2 separate regions of the Homo sapiens genome follow, and region 2 is linked to region 1. The links come from fine-mapping of genetic effects on gene expression. Tissue or cell type: sun-exposed skin. Region 1 holds a variant in brackets; the other region holds the start of a gene. All regions are shown on one strand. Distances are between the middles of the regions.

Region 1 (8,253 bases):
AGGGAACTAACCTCCTCAGTTATTGGCCTAAGCATCTCATAACCTACCAGGTAGGGCACAAGATGTTATATCTGTGCCGTTTCCTTTACTGTTACATCAACTTTTGCGGCATCACATGCATTTTGTGGATGAGTAAACTGAAGTCCAGGGAAGTTAAGTAACTTGCCCAAGGTCACCCAGAAAGTATCGGAGCTAGATTTGAATCTATGATGGTCTGCTTCCAAGGGCCAGAGGATTTCAGCTCTACATCAGTTTTATTTTTTCCCAGAGAAACAAGAGAGAAGCTGAGGGCACCATCTGCGGTGGATTCGGGCTGTGGGATTGCTGAATAGTGTCTACATTTGTATTAAGGAGTCATTTTGAGAGAACATTTCGAAGGCTCTCCAATCCATAGCACAGTGTTTTACCATCATTTGTCTCCAGGTGCATTGGGAACCATGTATTCACTCCAGGTGGTTTGAGAGGGAATGTGGCATTGCCCTTTCCTTGTTTCTCAGAATCCTTATTTCCTCTCCTCATTTTGCCCCTTTCTCCACAACGTTCTTTTCAAGACTTTGAGTTTGGGCAAGAATCGGGCAATAGGTTGCATTGTCAGGGGCTTAATGCCTCAGATTTTCTAAGGCAGTCCTGCTTGCCAACCTTCTGTTCCCGGCTCATTTCTGATCTGAGACCCAGGTTGTGTTGGTGGCTTTGGTGACTGCAGAACCACTGCTCTGGAGCCATTCACTCCACAGTGAGGTTGACACCCTGAGTCCCACAGGCCCCCTCTATTGCACCCACACTCTGTTGTGTTGGTGTGGCCAAAGAAGAGGAGGACAGAGAAGCTTCCCCAGAGATCTCTCCATGCTCCTCACAAGTGGTTTTTTTTTTGAGATGGAGTCTGTCACCCAGGCTGGAGTGGAGTGGCATGATCTTGGCTCACTGCAACCTCTGCCTTCTGGATTTAAGCAATTCTCCTGCCTCAGCCTCCCAAGTAGCTGGGATTGCAGGCGCCCGCCACCACGCCGGTTAATTTTTGTATTTTTAGTAGAGATGGGGTTTTGCCATGTTGACTAGGCTGGTCTTGAACTCTGACCTCAGGTGATCTGCCCGCCTCAGCCTCCCCAAGTGCTGGGATTACAGGTGTGAGCCACTGCTCCCGGCCACAAGTGTTCTTGGCTTTGTTTGTCTCTGCATTTGTCTCTGGGGAGGTATCACATTAACTTTCCATGTTTGTGGACTTGTACCTGTAATATGATTACAGTCTATACTTTCTAGAATTTTCTCAGATCCTCCATAGAACGACGTTTTTCGTGGCAGAGATTGTGTCTTCAGTGTGTCCCAACAGAGCTTGATCTGGAACCTCACCCAGAGTAAGCGTGGATTTGAAGCACCAGGGTCTTGGAGATCCTGGAGGGGCTTGGCCCTCTTAGCCAGGCCTGTGTGGTGGGGATGCCGAGGGGAGGAATGATGGATGGGAGAGATCACGTGACAGCACAGGACACTCTCCTGGGGCTAAAACAACTTCAGCGTCTGCTGTTGCAGTTTGGCCAGCCTGGTGGGGATGGAGGTTTGGTGGGAATTTTTTTGTAAGATTCATTAACCTTTTTCTCTTCTTGTTTCCCCCTTTTCTTTTCCTCCATTTTAAGCAGGCAGGCAGTCTTGCTAATGTCAGAAGTTAGGGTTTGGGGTGATGTGAAAGTTAAGGTTAATGTTTAGCAGATAGTCAATCCCCTCGCTCTCTGACTGTGGTTAAAGAACTCATCCCTGCCCCACTGACTTTGGGCTTGGCCATGTGACTTGCTTTGGCCAACAGAATATGAGCGCACATACTGTGAGCAGAGGCCGTGAGTGCACTGCCACGAGAAGCGTGTGTCCTGGGGAGCTGCTGCCTCTTGTGCCCGGGTCTAGAAGAAGTCATGTGTCGTCAATCCAAGCCCAACCCGTAGCCTGGAGCAGAGCTGCCCTTAGACCGCCCCAGATCATCCAAACCTTAGTCACCCTGCAGACTCCAAGTGTGAGGACAGAAGCTCGTGTTATAAGCCATTGAGTTTGGGCGATGGTTTGTTATGCAGCACCACTGTGACAACAGAAGACTGATATGGGTGGTGTCTGCTGGGAGGAACTGGGTGGCAACGGCAAGTGAATCGAAGAAGGCCGAAGTTATTGGCTTTTGCAAAATACTGAACCAGTGAAGAGATTTGCCCAAGTGTCCAGGAGGGTGGGAGCCTTTGGCCAGCAGCCAGGTGGGCCGAGCCTTCTGCAGAGCTGCGCAGGCTTGCTGACGCCTGTGTTTGGACAGTGGTGGAGACCTGGCTGATGCCTGTGTTTGGACAGTGGCGGAGACCTGGCTGAAGCCTGTGTTTGGACAGTGGCGGAGACCTGCATTGCGTTCCCTAGAGTGTCAGGGGTATTGCCAGTCTTGGGCCTCAGACAGAACAGCCTCTACTGCCTGAGGAACCCCTGTTTGCCAGGGATTGGTTTAAGCATCTCCTATGACCTTACTGTACCTCCTCAGCAGGTGGGTGCTGTCACTGGACAGATGAGGAAACTGAGGCATAGAGTGGTTAATCACTGCTCAGGGTTGCACAAGGGATAGGTGGCAACACGTGGCGTGGAGTCTAGGCAGTCCGCTTCTGGATGCTATGCTCATCGTCGCTACACTGCCCGCCCCAGTGCACCTGAGGGACTGCAAGGGCCGAGTGGCATCTCATGATAACCAGGGACTGAGAGCAGAAAGCTTGGCTTCCCTCATTCCCAACGTTAGACCCTGGCAAGGCCTGTGATGTGGACCTCTTCTCAAGTTGGGAGAGGAAGAATGGCTGAGATGGCATTTCCTAGCAGCCCAGGGGGACGGAGGCTGCAGTCACAATGCAGTGGACTTAAAGAAAAGAAAGAGACACAGCCTCTCTTACACCCCGGACTCAGCACAGATGTTCACCCTTGCAGCCCATGGCGTTGGATGGCAGGCTTGATGCCACCTGTCTGGCACAGGCAGCATTTCTGTTGGACTCAGGGACCACAGGCTCTAGGTCCCTGCAGGATCCTTGGACATCACTGGCCACAAAGAAGGGGTCTCCCAGATGTCACATGCAGGTGGCCTTGGGCTGGAGCCAGGGCCAGGGTCTGACCTGGAACTGCAGAAAGCAGTATGTCCTGAGCTTGCTGCTGACTCTGGGGAGGAGGCGCAGCTGGCCACGGAGCTGCCCTGAAGCCGTCGGAGGTGGGGGGACCACGTGGCTGGAGCACAAGATGCACATTTCCTGAGAATACTTTTTCCCCAACACTCCCATTGCTTCATTTTTAAACACCCCACTTAATTCATGTATAGATCTGAAATCACACTGAACGGGAATGTGAGTTTTCTGGGTTTGCCAAAAGGGGACCTGGGTTAGCAGCAGTGGCGAGGGGGCCTGGCCTTGCAGGGGTGAAGGTGAAGGTGTTGGTGAACTCAGCTTCCCTCCTGCATGTCTCGGGAAGATCATTTCCCGGCCCCCATGGTTGAGGAAGAGCAATAAAGAACCAAATCTCCTTTGAAAGGCATTTGACAACATTTAAACTCCGTCAGGCAGCCTAAGGATCATTTTCAATAAATTCATCTTGAGCTAAAGTTTCTGCCTTACTGAATTCATCTTTTGGGAGTGGGTGTTTGTCCCTGCTGCAGATAATTGTGACCCTGGATGGCAGGACCTATGTTCACTGTGAACCAACTTTTCTTGCGAGGGCCCCAAAGACCCCGAGTGTGAATCGCCCGAGTGGGTGGGGTCTCTTGCCCTGTGAGTCCTACTACCAGGGGCCCCATCCTTCCACCCACCTTCCCCCGGGTCTGTTTCCCTTGAGGTCTGAGCTGGGGTGCCCAGTGAGGGGTCATCCCTGCTGTGAGATAAAACCGAGGTGTGACTCCCCATCCCCATGCAGGGCCCTAGAGGTCATGCACGGCTTCAACCATCTGACCGAGGACGGATCTGACTCCCTGCTCAGGGCAGCAGCTCGTGGTTCATTCAGCCCCAGCGGCGTCTCGATGGGGGTAATGTAAGGGGCACAGAGAACCGAGGATTGGGTCTGATGGGATTAAACCCCCAACTGGTGTCCCTGTGTCTTCTCTTTCCTGACACCAGACACCAAGAAGAAACAGCCCCAAGCACATCCGTCAGTGCATTCCGAAGGGTGAGCTGGGGGCCAGGCGGCCTCTGAAG[T/G]CTCCACATGGGTTTTGAGCTTTTGCTTTTTTGCAGCAGCAAATCTGCTCTGGGCTGGGAATTGGTGTTTGCTAAATGCACAGGTGGTCTGGAGTGATGTTTTCCTTCTTTAGCAAAGTAACACATGCTCCTTACAGAGAGTTAGACATGCAAAGAGGCAGGCATGTTTTTTAAGGATAAGTTAAACATTCAGCAGGTTCTCGGGCACTGAGTGAAAGGTGTCCCCACAGGTCAGCCCCTCAGCCCCCCAGTTTCTTCTTGGAGAAGCCAGTGCAGGGCCCCGTGTTGGGGGCCGGTGGGTAGGAGGCTATCTCAAGACACCAGGAGGCGATTAGAGGGTCTCAGTCCATTTTGATACCTGTGCTCGGGAGTCGCTGGCTTGGACTGGACTCCTGGCAGCACCCAGTGAGAAAGGGACAAATCAGGCTGTGACTCTGGCCGTTTTCTCCTCTGCGACTATGATTCCTTTGCTGCACCCCCTCTTTCTGGCCCATCCGCAGAGCACAGACCTATCCTTGCCGGCTGACATTTCTCTGCTCCCTGAGGCTGAGTGTGCCCCCTGGGGATGCTCAGAGAGTGTCCCTGGATTTATTTCAGGGCCCTCACTTCTTGGAGGAGATGTCATTCCCTGCAGAGCTCCATTCACCTGCTCTGAACCCTCCTCATCCTGCCCAAGGACGTGCTCTCTGGTTTGGCTGGAAAGAATGACCCCACCATGCCAACTCTGGGATTCAGGCAAATCAGAGCTGCTGGGCCCAGGCTGCGTTGTCCAGCTGGCCCAGGTGTTTGTACTGAAACACAGCTGTGTGCCCACTGGTTGGTGCAGAGATGCTGTCTCTATCCCTATGGAGACCCTGTACTGGCACCCCAAGATACAGCAGCACAAGGGGCACAATTGCTGGCCCAGCAGAAACCTGGGGACCCTACACTCGAGCTACGGTCAGTGTCCACGATGACTGGCCAGCTGCCAAGTGAACAAGGACAGAGGCGTGGGCAGACGTGCTGTGGCCTCTCAGTGCTGGGTGTGTGAGTGGCCGGAGAGGGCGTCTAGATGCCCCAGGTGTCTTCACACCCAGAACTGGGTCTGCCAGACCCTGATGGCCCCGAGAGTCCTGACCAGACCCCCGAAGGCCAACCCAACATGCTGGGAATGACCATTGGTGCCAAGCGGGCCCTGGGCAGCTGGGGAAGGGCTGTCACCTCAAATGTCCCACTACCTGGCTCCTCCTCTTTCCTCAGGGACCCGAATCTGCCCGCTGGGCACAGGTCCTCACACAAAGCCTGGTCCAGGAAAAACAGGACCACATTGCCAGGCGGCCTGTCCTTCCCCTCCCCACAATCTGTGCTCTAATTACAGAAATGACAGGCTCATGGCCAGAGACGCCAAGTAACAGAGAAAGAGAATAAAGTAGAAAATAAGAATCATTCCCCAACCTACCCCCACACGGAGCTAGCTGCATTTTAAATAACTAAGCTTCTTGATTGTGTCTGTGTGGAGGCCTGAGTTCCTATAACCGAGGCTGTTTTCTCTTTTTTTTTTTTTTTGAGACAGAGTCTCACTTTCTCACCCAGGCTGGAGTGCAGCTGCCCGATATTGCGACCTCTACCTCCTGGGTTCAAGTGATTCTTGTGCCTCAGCTGGGCACCACCATGCCTGCTCATTTTTGTATTTTTAGTAGAGACGGGGGTTTCACCATGTTGGCCAGGCTGGTCTGGAACTCCTGACCTCAGGTCATCTGCCCACCTCAGCCTCCCAAAGTGCTGGGATTACAGGCATGAGCCACCGTGCCCGGCCTTGTCTGTTTTCTCTTCATGAGTGCCCGGTGTCAACGGGAGAAGCAGCACTGGCCTGAGCCTCTAAGCCAAAGCGTCCGGGCACAGCTGGGGACAGGCAACATGGACCCGGTCACTGTGGTCCTAATGGTAGATTGTGGTCCTGGTTGGCATAGGCAGCTCATCACGGTCTCACCTGTAGCTGCTTTATGGAAGGTCTGAATTGGATAGGAGCAGAAAACAGCTTCATTGTTCTCTAGCCGCTGCATTCCAGCAGCTTCTGTGAGGCAGGGGCCAGATTAGGGTGAGTGAGTGAGGCCAAGTCATGCAAATACAGGGTCATATTGTGTCTTAGTTGAAATGTTGTTAACTTTCCCATTAGGGTTTTTTTTTTTTTTGCATTGAATTTAACTTTTTAAAAAAATTCTGCACTAAAATATTATTTATTTTGATCCTGAATTTTTTGGTGCCCCCTTAAATTTTATGCCTCACTTGCTGCACCCTGATAATCCAGAGATGAGCGCCTCCCTCCCCTGCCTCGCCCTAGTCCCCATCCTGCTGATAGGTCTCTGGTCTCTGCTCCTTGATGACATCTGGGGAAGTTTTCCTAGGATTTTGGTCACCTTGATTTATAATAGCAGACTTGCTAATAATGAGTGGAATATGGCCAGGCGCCGGCTCATGTCTGTAATCCCAGCACTTTGGGAGGCCAAGGTGGGCAGATCACTTGAGGTCAGGAGTTCGAGACCAGCATGGTCAACATGGTGAAACCCTGTCTCTACTGAAAATACAAAGATTAGCTGGGTCTAGTGATGGGCGCCCGTAATCCCAGCTACTCAGGAGGCTGAGGCAGGAGAATCACTTGAACCTGGGAGGCGGAGGCTGCAGTGAGCTGAGATCATGCCACTGCACTCCAGCCTGGGAGACAGAGCAAGACTCTGTCTCAAAAAAAACAAAAACAAAAATGAATGGAATAGCTCATGTTTCGGTGTTACAAAATCCAGGCCAGACAAGTCTCAACTTTAATCTCACGCCCAGTTCCTAGGTTAGTCCCTTCTCCAGCTCAAATTCAGCCTAAGCCTCAGGGGTCCTTGGTCGGGGTGGCACCACCTGCTCCCTTCCCCAACTTTGTTCCTGTTTTTAATCTGCTGGGGCTGGGTGCATTCAGAGGTAGGGACAGGCTGAAGGTCTTCGGCTTTTTGGTTCTGTTGATGGGTGAGTTCCAAATACTAGCTTTCTCTTGTAGGATATTTCATTTATTTGTTAAAAATATTTATTTAGAACACACCATTCATGTGCCAGACGCTATTCCAGCCACTGGGGATAGGGTGATAAATGAGATAAACAAAAATACTCGCCCACGTTAAGCTCCTATTCTAGGGAAGAGAGGAAAAAAAAGAAAATACATGTGTACTTAGTACATTAGAAGGTTCCAAGTACTGTTAAAAAAAATAAAGCAGGCTGGACTCAGTGACTCATGTCTGCAATCCCAGAATTTTGGGAGGTGTAGGTGGGCAGATTGCCTGAGCTCAGGAGTTCGAGACCAGCCTGGGCAACACAAAAAAACCCTGTCTCTACAAAACAAAAACAAAACATTTAGCTGGGTGGACAGATTGCTTGAGCTCAGGAGTTCGAGACCAGCCTGGGCAACACAACAAAACCCTGTCTCTACAAAACAAAAACAAAACATTTAGCTGGGTGTGGTGGCATGTGCCTCTGGTCCCAGCCACTGGGGAGGCTGAAGTGGGAGGACTACTTGAGCCTGGGATGCAGAGGTTGGAGTAAGCCAAGATCACAACATTGCACTCCAGCCTGGGTGACAGAGTCAGACCCTGTCTCAAAAAAACAAAACAAAACAAAAAAAAAAACAGGAAAAAGAAAGCAGAGATGGGGACTAGTGGGGAGGGGGCTGGGGATGAGAGCCTCCCTGAGCTTCCACAGTTCTTCCTGCCCCTCTCCTATCTCACTGGGCACGGGCCACCTGGGGCTTCTGGTTGTTTTGTGCCAACTTAATATGTTGTTCTTGCCAACAGTCGGAGGCCAACTGAGGCTTCTCTGTCTTCCACAAGGAACAGCATTGGCCTAAACCTGCAGGCACCATTGCAAAGGGGAGTCAGCTCAGGTAAACCTGCTGGTGAAGCATGATTCCAGCGTGGGGACACAGAGGCTGATGTATCTTGCTGTAGGTGATTTAATGTTGGGCCTCACTATTTCACTACCCCTGTAAGAGTATGACACATCCACGTCCTTACCAGGGCCCGAGGGAGGGTGGATAGACTTATCCATCCCATAGGTATTGCTCGTG
Region 2 (6,436 bases), 100 kb before region 1:
CCCCAGATCCCACTGCTGGGCAGGGAGCCAGGCAGTCTGGCTCTCCTAGCCACGGTGCCCACAGCTGCCAGGGACTGCCCGCCCCAGAGCTGGAGAGACATCAGCCTCATGGAAGGCAGAGGAGCGGTGGATAGGAATGGATTCTCATTACAAAATCTGAGCTGTGGGTCCAGCTGTGTCTGAAGCTAGAGTTAGTCACCTTAAGACTTTTGGTTATGAAAACCAGTAAGTCCACTTCTTTTCTCCTTAAGCTGGCTTGAGTTTTTTTCTTCTCTTTTTCCGTTGCTTGCAAGAGAAAGGAACCTGATTACTTTACAGTTCTTCTAGGCAAGTACCCCTAACTGATACTCCATTTGCAACTTGCACACAGCAGCTGCTCAGTAAACACCAGCAGATACGGATGGACTGCTCTCCCTTCCGGTCCATTCACTGCTGGATCTGTACCCTGACACCCAACTGTGGCCAGCCCAGCGCTTCTTCCCCTTTAGGCTCCAAGTGAGGCCTCGTTCCCTAGCAACCACCCCAATTAGGCAACCATGCCATTTATCGGGATGCCAATTAATTATAACGATCTTAATGCCCTCCCAATTAGACAGTGCCTTCAATCCGGCTGGGCCAGGGCTGTCTGTAGATCTCCACCAAGGCCCATTCCAAGGAGGCCCAGAGAAAGCAGGTTTCAGGGAGGGCCCCCTCACCTGCAGATCAGCATTGAGAGAGGCCCCCATCTTCCACATCCGCCCAGGCCTGACACAGAGCACCCTGGCACCACCCCCAGGGCCAGGCCATCGAGACTCCATCACCAACCACAGGAAGGTCTCACCTCTAGGAGAGCTTTTGCTCTCTGGCCACTGTGCTCTGAGTGGGCTGAAATCTTCACCATGGTTCACCTGGCTTTTCCATCAGCTGCATTTGATGTTTCCCTTTGCATTTTGACTGGGGGAGGGGACAGTGTGTCTGCTCATAAGCAGAAGAAAAAGCACCAGGCAGACACATGTTTTCCTTGGGGCAAAAAACCTCAAATACAAACCCGGACTCTCTGTCGGAACAGTGGGGGTTTATGGAAAGTTAAGGGCCTTTTACTTTGCAAAGTTTGACTGTCTGAAGGTGTTTTCTTCCCCTGCATATGTGTTTCTTCTACATCTGGGACAAAGGCCAAGGTCATGGAGGAGAGTCCAGTGGTTCCAAGTGGACCCCGGAGCTTGAGGGCCTCTTGAATCCCAGCTCTACCTGTGACCAGCTGTAGGCAAGTCACAATCCTCTCTGTGCCTGTTTCCTCATCTTTAATATGGCAACAATGGCAGTACTTACTTAACAGGGTATTTGTGTGGATTTAATGAGTAAGGTATAAGGGCTTAGATCAATGCCTCAGATCAGGCCCATACAAAACTACTTAAGTGTTACCAATTATCTTAAGTCTGGACTAAACCTTTTCTTTTAACTACAAGCTGGTCAGAAATGCTGATATTTTTCTGTAGGACAGGGCTTCTGGACTCCTTCTGCAGGACTAAAGTCTAAGGTCAGATAATGGCCAAAGCTTGACAGAGTTGGGTGATATTCTGCCTGGTTAACCCAGCTGCCCTCTTGAGGCAGGTCCAAGCAGATAAACTAACCAGTGCCAGAAAAAGTGAGAAGGAAATGTTATCTCCCAAATCAGGTCCAAATCAGGTGTGAAACTGCATATCAACTGGGTTCTTTGGACAGCAGCTGAACTGGGGGACATGCACGTGCATGCACACACACTGCTATGCTGTCCTCCTCCAAGACCAGACTTTTACAGTCAACTCATCACTCTACTCTCAAGTTTGAAAATTTAACATGTTATTAGGGTTTCAGAAAAAGCCATAAATTCAAATAAAAAACCCAAGAAGTACACACAAAGCCCAAACCCCAAACCCACATTGACCCTCAGCTGCAGCAGTGATGCCAACATCACGGCCTTTATGTATATAAATTTAGCTGGGGAAGGAAGAGGCCTTCATGTACAAAGGTCCAACATGCCATCTGCCAAGCCCACCACCTTCGCCTTTCAAGCTGCTTATTAGAACGCTAAATTACACATCCGACAGGCTGTCTGGATGAGTTTTCTCTTCTCTATGATGTGGGAGAGACGAAGCTGGGGAGAACATCTCTTACAGGGAAGGGGCCCCCTTCGTTCTGTCCTCCCTACCCCGTTCCTATACTTAACGATTGGCTCTAATTTAATTAGAACCCTCTGGTGGTTCTGTAATGGGAGGCAGAGGCTGTCAAGAAATCACCTTCACTATTCACTACAAGCTGAAATTTGGAGAGCGCGCAGATCCGGGGGTGTCCTCCAGAGAAAGCCCGTCTCTCCTGCTCCCTGTCTCCCCCTGAGAACCTGCTCCAGCGCAGCCTCCCCTTCTCTGCCCCAAAAGTGGGGGTGGACCCGGTGGGAAACAGGCAGGGGACAGATGGAGGGGCGAGAGGGCGGGTGTCCCAACACGCACAGATGAGCAAATACCCAGATTGAAACGTAAGCTGAATGTAATTACTTGGTTAATTAAATATTGACTTTTAACTCAAAAAGTGATTAAAACAAGCTGCAGGAAGACTTTCCAGAAAGGGGGGCAGGGAATGAATCAAAGCTTTCAAGGGGGAGGAGGAGGAGGAGAGGGTCGTCACAGGCAGGTCTGGCTTGCTCTTCCTACTGTGTGCTGGGCCTACTGCGTGCAGGTGGGGGAGTTGCGGACCGAGGCCAGTGTGCAAACTAGGATTGCAGGCTTCCCTTTCCATCTTCCACCCCGAGACGGCATCTCTCTACCCTGCTGCCCTCCCAGTGAACCGGCAGCTTCTGGCGCGCAGGAGCCAGATCCTGTTCAGCCGCGTTTCCCTGGAACAGAACGCGGTGCCCGGCACGAGGGGGTGCTCCAGAAATGCTTGTAGAACGAATGAACGAACTACTATAAGGAATGTTTGGAAAAGTGCACTCCTAGAATTCACCGCTAGACTTCTGAAACCCCGAGGAGCCGGGGAGGGGAGCATCCCTCCGCCAGGCGATGGAAACTCGTTCTGCCCTGGCCTGGGAGGAAGTCTGCCTTTTCGATCCTGTTTGTCCTTTCGGTGTCTGCGAGTTTCCAACCACTCTGAAGATCCGGCCCACTGCTTCCCCGAGTCCTGCCCGGACAAGCCCCACGTGGGCTGGCATCTACCGGTCCCTTGGGTCTAAACCCTAAGGGTCAACAAGGCCATGCCCCTGCGGATGGCCGGCCCAGGCGCGCTCCCCTACCCGGGGCCGCCTGTGCTCGGTGTGCCGTGTCCGCGGGTCAGGGGCGCGGCGGGAAGTCCTCGCCCGCCCGCCAGCCAGCGGGGTCAAACAGGTCATCCCTCTGCGGACGGCCGGCGCCGGAGCCTCCCTCCCGCCCGCCCGGACCCACCTCCGCAAGCAGCGCTGGGGCTGGAGCCGGGCGGTCCGGACCAGCCCCGGCTCACCTGGGCGGCGCTCGCGGCCGGGCTCACGCCGGGGAAGGCTCCGGCCGCCGCGAGCCCCCGCCCGAGCCCCGCGTCCCCCAGCCACCCACCTGCCCCCCACGCCCCACTCACCAGCGCGCACGGCCCCGGCAACCTCACCCGGAGCGGGGCGCCGCCGCCGCCTCTGCCGCAGCCCGGCCGGGCCGCTGGGCGCAGGGGACTCCGCGCCGCCGCTGCCGCTGCCGCCGCCGCCGCCGCCGCTGCCGCTGCTGCATCCCCCGGCGAGCGCTGCTGCTCCTCCTCCTGCCTCCTCCCCGCCCCCCAACGCCGCCGCCACCGCCCCCGGCCCCCTCCCCGCGCGCCGCCCCAGCCAAAGTCCGGCTCCGCACCCCGCCCGGACCGCTCTTAAATCGCCCCAGCCCGGCCGGCCACGCTGCCCCAGCCAGCCCCTTGGCACGGCGCTACCGCCCCCCGCTCGCCTGCCCGCCGGCCTCCACGCAGGGGAGGCGGGCGCGCTCCGGGGCGGGGAGCGTCGGGCCGGGAGCCGCGGACGGCTGGGGCCCGGGGCGCGGGGGGCCCAGCCGCGGTGCCCTCCTCGAGCCCTCCGCGCGCTAGCGCTTTTACCTCCGGCCTGGGGGACGCGCGGCCCGCGACCCGGCCCTGCCTGTCCCCGGCGCACGGCCCCGGCCCCGGCCCCGAAGTCCAGCTCCGGACGGGGCAGTGAACGCAGAGCTGGGGTCCCGGCGGCTCTCGACCTCCCGATGCCTCCGGACTCGGCTGGCCGCGCTCCCGGCGCCGAGCGCGCACCCTCGCCGGGACACACAGACGCACACTCACTCGACACACTCTCGCTCCTGCTCGCCCTCGGCGGAGAGTTGAAACAGATGTGGGATTCGCCCAGGAGCTGGAAACGAGGGAGGGAAGCGAGCCAGAGCCTTGTGTGCACGTGTGTGTGCGTAACACACAAACCAGGGGGCATCGCTAATAAATCAAATATCGTGATAAATTCAGGAGGGCCATCGATCAGGTCCACTTGGCTGGAAACGACGTGAATCTGCCTCTTTTCCGCTTTCTTCTTCTCCTCTCTCGGAGCTGGAGGGAGCCAAATGTTCCGCGGGGAGTGCGACAGCCCCGGCCGGGCGCTCCCCTCGTAATGACACGTTAATAAATGTTTTCTTTTATCTGCTTTCACAGGACTCGCCCCGGTCTGCAAACACTCGACTGCCTTTGCCGAAAGCCTCGCGCTCGCCTCCAGCCACACACATTTGCCATTGGAGAGGCCGGCGCCGGCCGCGACCCGCAGCTCAATCGCAGGGCAAACCGAGCTGCCTGTGCGCGCCCGAGAACTCCCCGAGAAATTAACTTCGGCTCAAGTGAAAATAGCAGCTGTTGTCCAGAAATGGCCCGGGAGTAGCATAGAAAGGAGAAACCGGCTTCCTCCGAAAGGGGAGGAATTGGACTCAAGGGGGTGCTGTCTACCGTGGTTTCCGCTGTCCCTCGCGCCACAGAAGAGGCCGGAGGGGGACCGGCCTGACGCGGGTGGGCAAAGAGCGGGCAGAGAACTCACCAGCAGCTGCAGAAAACACAGCCGAGTTGCTAGCTAAGGGGAAACAGACGCCGCTGTGGGAAAGCACTTGTAAACAGCAGTAACTTATTAAATCTTGTGACAATCTCACACAGTAAGTTACTATGCCCGTTTTACCATGGAAACCAAGAGAGGTTTAGTAACTGTCCGAAGATCACACAGTTATAAGTGGTGGATCCTGTGAAGCCAAGAAGCCTTAGCTCCCGGCTCATGCTCTTAAATCCTAGGATGTTTTTACTTTTCAACCTAGCATCTCCTTTCTCTGATATGATCCTCCATGGTAGAGTTGTCAGACTTAACAAATAAATATAGACATCCACGGGGAGGAAGTTAGTACTAAAAAATCATTCATTTTTAAATCTGAAATTCAAATCGGATCTCCTGACTGGGTTTGGAGCTCTAGGCTCCTCCCCATAACCTCTGTTAGCCACGCCAATCAAGTTAGAGCCTAAATAAATCAGAAAAACCTTGCACTTGCTTTTCCAAGTCAGGTGCTGGCCCTACCTTTGGCATCACTGATAAGGCTGAACAGCTCCCACCTTCTTTGCCCTGGGACAGAATGTCAGGCTTCACCATCATAGACCGAAAAATAATGGAGACCCCTCTCCTTCCGCCTCATCTCTGCAGAAGGACATATATATCATTTAGAATTTTCTAGTAGTGGCATTAGAAAGTAAAAAGAAACAGGTGAGGGCCGGGCACAGTGGCTCACGCCTGTAATCCCAGCAGTATGGAAGGCCGAGGTGGGCGGATCACTTGAGTTCAGGAGTTCCAGACCAGCATGGGCAACATGGTGAAACTCCATCTTTACAAGAAATACAAAAATTAGGCTGGGCATAGTGGCATGTGCCTGTGGTCCCAGCTACTCGGGAGGCTCATGTGGGAGGATCACTTTGAGCCTGGGAGGTGAAGGCTGCAGTGAGCCATGATTGTTCCACTGTACTCCAGCCTGGGTGACAGTCAGACCCTGTCTGAAAAAAGCAGGTGAAATTAATTTTAATATTAATAATATAGTTTACTTAACCTAGTATATCCAAAATCGATCTCTTCAACATGTAATCAATATAAAATTAATGAGATATTTTTACATTATTTTTTCTTACTAAGTTTTGTAATCTGGTGTACATTCTAAACTTACAGCACATCTCAATTGGGACCAGCCACATGTGGCTCAGGGGTCCCATGCTGGACAGTGCAACTCTGGCAGGTTCTGCGGTCAATGGCTGTTTCCACCGGGTCATTTCATGTAATCCTCCTGACAATCTTTCAAGCAAACTGATGCTCAGAGAGATAAAGGGTCTTGCCTATAGTCAAAAACTTGGCCAGTGGGATTTCAACCCTTTTGATGCTGTCCCTGGTTTGGGGACATGTACCCCACTGCAGAAGCAATTTTCTTACTGAATCCTCAGGGCCCCTTGGTGGTGC

Direction of the effects. Positions count from the first base shown, and alleles are read on the strand shown. Sizes are in standard deviations (SD) of each study's normalised expression.
In carriers of allele G in region 1, the expression in sun-exposed skin of the gene that starts at base 3,697 in region 2 tends to be lower than with T alone (moderate effect, 0.41 SD a copy in GTEx).

Evidence for each region. PIP is the estimated chance that this variant, and not a neighbour inherited with it, causes the effect.
Region 2: SULF2 starts here. The variant in region 1 is fine-mapped to the expression of SULF2 in sun-exposed skin (GTEx, PIP above 0.99).

What each region holds. Positions count from the first base shown.
Region 1 is chr20:47,884,681-47,892,933 of GRCh38, forward strand. No RefSeq gene overlaps it. Among named protein-coding and RNA genes, the nearest start is that of LINC01523, 94 kb to the right of the region's middle. The variant T/G (reference allele first, on the strand shown) is at 4,176.
Region 2 is chr20:47,781,785-47,788,220 of GRCh38, forward strand. SULF2 (sulfatase 2) reads right to left here and starts at 3,697. Exons shown (of 21, transcript NM_001387048.1): 1 at 3,559-3,697. It overlaps LOC124904920 (a long non-coding RNA gene), which reads left to right and starts at 3,970. Exons shown (of 2, transcript XR_007067618.1): 1 at 3,970-4,378; 2 at 4,621-5,101. LOC124904921 (a long non-coding RNA gene) reads right to left here. Exons shown (of 3, transcript XR_007067619.1): 3 at 5,556-5,632. RefSeq lists enhancers at 656-715, 4,815-4,984.